2 separate regions of the Homo sapiens genome follow, and region 1 is linked to region 2. The links come from fine-mapping of genetic effects on gene expression. A gene starts in region 2. The other region holds a variant in brackets. All regions are shown on one strand. Distances are between the middles of the regions.

Region 1 (4,399 bases), 22 kb before region 2:
AAAGTGGTCAAGGATCAAACAAAATAACCTAATAGGATCATACAATATTAAAAAACAGGCTATTGCAATACCAAAACAAACAAAAATACAATAAAAAAGAAAACTATTATATAATCTCACTCATGAGATGCAAAAATACTAAATAAAATGGCAAAATGAAATCAAGCAATGCATCAGAAGGATACTATGACTAACCTGGAATATCCAGGAATGGGAAAAAGTCAGTGAATCTATCAGAATAAATTATCACATGAACAAATTAAATACTATAGAAGTGCAGAAAAAGATAGTGAAACGGCATTTAATAAAACTCAGGAGGCACCACTACTTAGCTACAACAAAGATTTTCACTCATAACTGAGACCATGATGCTGCCATTCCATCATAGCTAACAACCAGACATGGTGACTGAAATTCTCTTTTGGTTATAGCAGCAGTTCCCAATGCAATTTCACCCACCTACAAAGATAATAGGTCATGGGAATAAGTATTTCAACAGTGAAGTTTGCCATACACCAGTTTAAACAAAGTTCAACCATTTTCTTCACTAGAATACTCCTTAGTCTTTTTTTATTTTTATTTTTTTGAGACGGAGTCTCGCTCTGTCGCCCAGGCTGGAGTGCAGTGGCGCAATCTCGGCTCACTGCAAGCTCTGCCTCCCGGGTTCACGCCATTCTCCTGCCTCAGCCTCCCCGAGTAGCTGGGACCACAGGCGCCCGCCACCACGCCCGGCTAATTTTTTCTATTTTTAGTAGAGACGGGGTTTCACCGTGTTAGCCAGGATGGTCTTGATCTCCTGACCTCGTGATCCGCCCGCCTCGGCTTCCCAAAGTTCTGGGATTACAGGCATGAGCCACCGCGCCCGGCCGTCTTTTTTTTTTTTTCACTTCTCTTTAGTCTTTTGATAAGCTGGTGAGGTGCTTTTGCTTGTTCCTTAGGAGGGGATTTAGTAGATGCTACTTTATAAGCTTCTTTAACTGTAAAATCCTCCTTCATTGTCAAGTACTAGTAAGCACTGGTGATTCCTTGAGATATAATTTCAGAAATGTTGGGATAAGGCACCATGTCTACATTTCTTGGTTAACAGGCAAATGTGGCACCCAGAGGGAGTGGCATAATAGCCAGTTACCAATAATATATCCTGTTAAAACTCCCAAAGTACTCTGCTTTGTGTTACAGTTGATTATTAAGAGTGCAACTGTTGGCTTTTTATGCCTTTGAAAAAGTGCAATCATGTAGAATGATGATCACTAGATGGTGAATGACTGACTGAACAGTGATATTACGAATCCCCTATGTGCACAAAATAGAGAGGTCAGGTGTAGACCTATGACAAGGAACCACAGACATTTAGTTATCAATGCATTAGTTCTGATGGAACTGACATTATTTTCAAAAAGAAATAATTTTTAAAAGGGTCGATTTCTAACTGTGTGAGTATATAAACACACACTCTATTTCTTCATAACTAACCTGCCTTGATGCTAGCACTAAATCATGACAGGCACCTGGTTGAAAGTGGTTGCAAGAAGCCATCAATTTTAAGATGCATTGTGATTTCCAAATAGTAAAATATAGCCAGGCGCAGTGTCTCACACCTGTAATCCCAACACTTTGGGAGGCTGAGGCAGGTGCAGGAGTTCAAGATCAGCCTGGACCAACATGGCAAAACCCCATCTCTACTAAAAATACAAGAATTAGCCAGTATGGTGGTGCACACCTGTGTATCCAGCTACTTGGGAGGCTGAGGCACGAGAATCACTTGAACCCGAGAGGTGCAGGTTGCAGTGAGCCGAAATCACACCACTGCACTCCAGCCTTGGTGACAGAAAGAGAGATCCTGTCCCAAAAAAAAAAAAAAGTAAAATACATACCATATGATCACACATTTCCAAAGATCATTGATCAAGGCTGACCAATCCTATTAGGTATATAATGGATCTTTATAACAGACAACTCCAGTAGTTACCATAAGTGATCAAACTTGGCACTGGTGATACTGGGGGAAATGGATACTATCTGCTTCTGAGGTATTGCAAGATGAAGTACACATCACCATCTATGAAGTGTTCTGGTAAAAAATGTTTAAGCCTCTATTTCCAACTTCATGTTACGAGAAATGTGAAGGAGAGGCCCATATCAAATTTCACCATGAGGAA[T/A]GAAACTAATGTGTGACATTCTATAAAACAGCTTTCCTAAACTCTTCAAAAGTCTGGATTTTTTCAAGTCTCATTTTTTTAGCTCAGCTTAAGGGATAAACTCTGAATTAAAATCCCCTCAAATTCTTTATACTGTACTAGATCTTATCCAGAATGAACTATCTGAAATTCAAATGGATGAGTGGTTATGGGAAGCTTTTCTGAATTCATTCCTCAAAACGGTTGTGCCTCTCCTAAGAATTCACCAGTAGTAATACTAATAATAAAGACAATATGAACAATAGCTAATATGTATTAAGCATAGGCTACATACCAGATACTCTTCCAAGGATATGATGCATACTAAATCCATCTAATCTCTGTAACAGCATTATTAGTTACCATCAGCATTTGAAACATCATGTCCAGAAGAGATAAGCATTTTGCTCACCATCCTACAGGTAGTATGGAGGTGAAATGGTGATGACAGTATGGTATTTGCCATGGATAAGGGTTTTCCTACATTTGTTACATTAACAGAGTTACTCTCTAGGATGAACTTACTGAAGTTTAACAAAGACTGAATAGTGTTGGAAGGCTTCTGCACATTTAACATATCTGGTATAAATTATCTTATGCTGTTACAGGCATTAGAAAATTTTGATTCCCTCATTTGCCAAATCTTGCTATAGTATGAATATTCTGCTATTCTAATCAGAGAGGTGCAAGTGAAGAATTTCTTATTTAAATTGTCACTTGTCTCATGTCTTGAAAAGTGTGAGTCTTGTCTCAAATTATTTCTGGGAAAGAACAAACTTTGTTTTCAATTCTCAATCATTTATGGACTGATAATTTTGTAAAACAGAATGTTATGGAAATGTCAAATTGCTATAAAAGTTCCAAATATTTACTCACTTTCCACGTTTATCTCACAATTGACAGATGACAATTTTATGACTGCACCAGTCTCTGGATAATAATTTGGGTAGCATTTGTCTAAAGGCCTTCCTATAATTCTAATTCAAATGATTTCTCATTTGGATGAATTCTCTGATGTACTCTAAGATATTTACTGTGTCTATAAGCCTTCCCAAATTCCTTATGTGCATAGGATTACACAGCAGTATGAATTCTCTGATGTGCAGCAAGAACTGAATTAAGTTTAGGTCCTTCCCACATTCCTCCTATTTAAACTCTTTTTAACAAATACCAATTATTTGATGTTAATCAGACCTTATGTCATGAATGAAGATCTTCACACATTCCTTACATTTAAATGATTTTACATCAGTATAAATTGATATCCAATAAGACTGTACAGAAGTCTAAAGGCCTTTTCATATTAATTATATTCAAAATATTTCTCACTAGTATGAATTGCTGGATAGCAAGATAATTGCCCATAAACAGAAATGAATGGCTTTTGCACAACCCTTACATTCACAAGGTTTCTCAAGAGTAAGAGTTCTTATTATGATAAGTTGTCTATACACACACACAAAATATTCTTTTACAACTTTCAATCATAAGGTTTCATCAGTATCAATTTTCTCATTTGAGTAAGTTGTCCACAGAAAGGCTTCCCCACATTCGTTATATTTGTAGGGTTTATCATTACTATGAGTTCTCTCATGAACAAGTTTTGAGCCACAAGTAAAGGTCTTCCCGAATTCCTTACGTTGATAAAGCTTCTCACCAGTATGAAATCTCTGATGAACACTAAGTTGATAGCCACTACCAAAGGCCTTCCCACAGTCTTTACATTCATAAGACTTCTCATTAGTATGGACTCTCTCATGCTTAACTAGGCTTGAACCCCAACTGAAGGCCTTCCCACATTCCTTACATTTGAAAGGTTTCTCACCGGTATGAATTTTCTGATGTTGAGTAAGGTGATAGCCACGACTAAAAGCCTTCCCACATTCTTTACATTCATAGGGTTTCTCCCCTGTATGGATTCTTTCATGTTGAACAAGGCTTGATCCACAATTAAAAGCCTTCCCACATTCCTTACATTCATAGGGTTTCTCACCAGTGTGAAATACCTGATGTCGAGTAAGTTGATACCCACTACAAAAGGTCTTTCCGCATTCTTTACATTCATGGGATTTCTCACCAGTATGAACTCTCTCATGTTTAACAAGGCTTGAACCCCAACTAAAGGCCTTCCCACATTCCTTACATTCAAAAGGTTTCTCACCAGTATGGATTTTCTGATGTTGAGAAAGGTGATAGCCACGACTAAAGGCCTTTCCACATTC
Region 2 (4,399 bases):
TAGAGACGGGGTTTCACCATGCTGGCCAGGCTGGTCTCGAACTTCTGACCTTGTGATCCACCCGCCTCGGACTCCCAAAGTGCTGGGATTACAGGTGTGAGCCACCGTGCCCAGCCCCCACTTTTTTAGTTAATTTGCAAGCACCCGTCACAATCAACTTCATACTTCTGTTACTCTAATCTATAAAAAGTTTATGGGAAATAATCTAGAAGAGCCCAATAATAGCAACTCAATATTCAGTAAGCCCATATCATGGGGATGACACTGCTCTACGAAGCTTTACATATAATATCTCATCTTACATCATATCAACTCCATTAGGTAGGTACTATCCTGTCCCTATTTTATAGATGTGGCACAGAGGGCCTGAATCAATTGTCTAAGCACACACAGCTACCAACAGGCAGAGCCAGGATTTGAATTCAGATACTTTGGATCCAGAGCCTTAATTTTTTTGTTGTTGCTGTTTTTTCGAGATGGAGTCTCTCTCTGTCACCCAGGCTGGAGTGCAGTGGTGCAATCTTGGCTCACTGCAACCTCCACCGCCCGGGTTCACGCCATTCTCCTGCCTCAGCCTCCCGAGTAGCTGGGACTACAGGCGCCTACCACTACGCCCAGCTAATTTTTTGTATTTTTAGTGGAGACGGGGTTTCACCGTGTTAGCCAGGATGTTCTCGATCTCCTGACTTCATGATCCACCTCCCTCAGCCTCCCAAAGTGCTGGGATTACAGGCGTGAGCCACTGTGCCCGACCCCAGGGCCTTATTTTTAACTACAACATAGTACGGCTTCTTACATGCCACAGAAAGCTGGACTTCAAACAAGTCATGCTTGGAAATGTTACAGATTTCTATCTAAAGATTATCTGAAAGTCCCCACTCTTGTTGGTGCAAATTACAAATCCCTATGTTCAAAGCTCAATCATATTTCCACCCCTAAAAGCCTCACAAAGCAGACAACATTGTCATTTACTGCCAGAAACATTCCCTTACTTAAAATCCCTTATACCTTGCCTTTCTTTAAGCATCATGACTATGGGCCAGGCATGGTGGCTCACACCTGCAGTCCCAGCACTTTGGGACGCCAAGGCCAGAGGAACACCTGAGCCCAGGACTTCAAGGTTGCACTGAGCTATGACTATACTACTGCACTCAGCCTGGGCAACAGAGTGAGACCTTGTCTCTAAAAAAAGTTAAAAAAAAATTTTAATTATGACTACAGAAAAGATAAAAAATAATGTTTATATAACACCACCTAATTACTAATCTCTTCAAATAATCATAGTATAAAATAATGCTCTAATAGCAATCTACAAGAGGTGCCTTTCTATAACTCTTCAGTGCATCATAATGCACTGAAGTATTTGAACAATTTGCCATATGAACAGGTGGGTAAGAATTGTGGAGAAGAACAATAGGGGGCCACTGGGAGGAAATATGTACCAGCATGGCGGGTCATGTAACTGGGAAAACCCAGTCAAGATATTTCAGGCCAAGGAAAGAAAATGTTCTCATGACCTAGAAGCAAAGGTAATTGTATGTGTATGTATTTAAAAAGTATGTATAAAAAACCTCACCTGAACCTTGATTTCTAAACATGCAAAAATCCTTTTCTCCTCTTCAAACTCCTTCTTAGAAATCTGGCAACCTGGCAGCACTGGGGGAAAAAACAGTAACATGAGACATCAGCATTTCTAGCGCGTCACAGACTTAATTAAAAAAGAAAAAGAAGAGCAAAACACCCTCTGGGGCCACTTCTGCCTTCATCCACACAAAACCAAACGGAATGAAAAGGGAGGCTAGAGTCTGTCTCTGTGTTGAGGGCAATTCTTGGGGACAGAGGTCTGCTTGCAATGGCTCTGAAACATGTAGCTCACCACCAAAGAGCTCCTAGAGGCCCCTCTTCTAGGAATCCCACCTCTAGAACTTCCCCATCAGGTCTTGACAAGATCCTGTCCCGCGGACACTTCCAGATCTAAAATTCTCATCCTTCTTGCTTGAAACGTTCATTATGGGGCTTAGCATAGACTTCTTTCTTGCGGTCATTTAATTGTGGCAGGCCCGAAGACAGGCTAAAGGGAACCTAGAGCATTTGGTCAAAGCAAATCACATTTACAAATACGGCCACGCACCCTGTCAGCCCGTCACACATTCACAACTGCACCCACCTCCGTGGGGACACGCCCCGTCCCTGCCACGCCGTCTGAGACACACTGTCCCTCGGCTGCTCGCGTGCACACAGGCTTGAGGATCCGGACACGACACGCTCTGTCCGTGACCCAGCCCTCCCCACCTCCAGCACCCCCGATGCCACCCCCACCCTCACTGCCGGTTCCAGTCGGGCCCCAGTAAAGCCAGCCGAGCCCTCCCAGCTTCACCCGGGCTGATTACTTCTACAGACACGACCAACTCACCATGCAGAGTCCAAGAACCTTAAGGACACCGGAAAAGGACCCAGAGACCTGTGGTTAGTTTGGACCCAGAGGCTGATGGGAAACAAGAGCCTGGAAATGCTCGCAGGCTGGGAGAGGAGCTTCTGGCAGGCAAGCTCGCCCCGCCCCTAAAAGGCCTGTGCCCCGGAGACTTCTGGGAAATGTAGTCCACAGCGGCAGAGTCTCCGGAAGTTGAAACCTGGACAGCAGGGATGCTCCCAGCATGCAACTTGGCTTCACCTGTCAAAGGCGCTTTTTTCGAAGACGCCCGGGAGCTCTTGCTTTTGCTTGAGGGTCTTTGGTGTTGACTGAGAGCGAATTAAAAGGTTCTCAGCTTTCGCTAAGGAACGCATTCTGGAGTCTAGAACAGGCGAAGATGGGACTGGGGTGTCTGGGGACTTAGACGTGAGCGAGCAAGGGAATCCGGGGTAAGTTCGCTGGAAATGACCTGCGCGACACTACCAGTTTACCTGGGTATGAGCGCCTGGAACAGTGTCTGGCAATTGAACAGATGGGTGTGTCTTGCTGTGAGGGAGTTTCTTAGTTCGATTCGGTGTCTGGGACCCTGCGTGGACCTGTTTATGTTCATGGGATGTTTTCTAAATTTATGCCTGTGTGAGTCTGTTTTATTAGGTGTGAGATGAACTGTGTTACAGATTTTATATGCCGCTGTTGAAAGACAACAATAAGTGGTAGTGAGTGGATATTGTGACCGTGGAGACTTATGGCAGTGCAAAGGCGGCCATAAACAATGCACAAGCAATCCAGCATGGCTGTGTTCCAATAAAACTTGATGGATTATAAAATTTGAATCTCATTTTTTATAGAGTATGAAACCATTTATTCTGAAGCACACACTCATACTCCAAAAACAATACTATATATTCCCTCTCTCTCTCTCCTGTGTGTTTGCGTGTGTGTGTGTGTGGGTGTGTGAGAGAGAGAAAGGTTTTAAAGGAGACAACTAACTGATTCTGAGGTTAGGGCAAAAAGATTGGGGCTGTGGTTGGTGTGGTAAGAACCTTTGGATATAAATACTTTTTTAAAAAAGAATTGTCTAAAAATATTAAAGCGAAATTTTATATTAAAACTAACAGAAAGAAAAGGAAGTTACTTTTTAGGGGCTCTTTCTGGTCACTGATATCACCTCTCTCATCCTCTGCCATCTCTCACCTCCTGGTCTCTCTTGCTTATCAAGAGAAGACTAGAGCTCTTGGATCCCAGCTTTTCCCCTGCCTCAGCTGAGGCCACTACCCTGGTTGACTCCCATGGTGACATGGATGCCTCATCCAGTATCGTGGGTCTGAGTCCTCATCTGCAGGGTCCTTGAGCTTTCCTCGGCACCCATCCCCGTTTCCCATCTGGGACTTCATTATCATCAGCATCTGCTCCACCTCCAAAACCACTGGTGGAAGCAGCCTCCTCTCTTCCCATGTTACTTGCTCAATGACTCCCACAAGTACTACTCTGAATATTTTGGGGGTCTGATTTTTTTTTAATTTTTTATTTCCATAGGTTTTTGGGAAACAGGTGGTGTTTGGTTACATGAGTAACTTCTTCAGTGGTGATTTGTGAGATTTTGGTGCACCCATCACCTGAACAGTGTACATGGCACCCAATTTTTAGTCTTTTATCCCTCACCCCCTTTCCACCCTTTCCCCCAAGTCCCCAAAGTCCACTGTGTCATTCTTAGGCCTTTGCATCCTCACACCTTAGCTCCCACTTATGAGTGAGAATATACGATGTTTGATTTTCCATTCCTGAGTTGCTTCACTTAGAATAATAGTCTCCAGGCCGGGCATGGTGGTTCACACCTGTAATCCCAGCACTTTGGGAGGCTGAGGCAGCTGGATCACCTGAAGTCAAGAATTCAAGACCAGCCTGGCCAACATGATGAAACCCTGTCTCTACTAAAAATACGAAAATTAGCCGGGCACGCTGGTGGGTGTCTATAATCCTAGCCATTCA

What was found. PIP is the estimated chance that this variant, and not a neighbour inherited with it, causes the effect.
Region 1: its variant is the best candidate, but not a certain one, in a credible set for the expression of ZNF283 in whole blood (INTERVAL, PIP 0.50).

Annotation. Positions count from the first base shown.
Region 1 is chr19:43,847,904-43,852,302 of GRCh38, reverse strand. It overlaps ZNF283 (zinc finger protein 283), which reads right to left. Exons shown (of 7, transcript NM_181845.2): 7 at 286-4,399. The coding sequence ends at 3,662. Among named protein-coding and RNA genes, the nearest start is that of ZNF283, 23 kb to the right of the region's middle. The variant T/A (reference allele first, on the strand shown) is at 2,160.
Region 2 is chr19:43,825,459-43,829,857 of GRCh38, reverse strand. ZNF283 (zinc finger protein 283) reads right to left here and starts at 2,537. Exons shown (of 7, transcript NM_181845.2): 1 at 2,414-2,537; 2 at 1,577-1,656. RefSeq lists an enhancer at 2,480-2,679.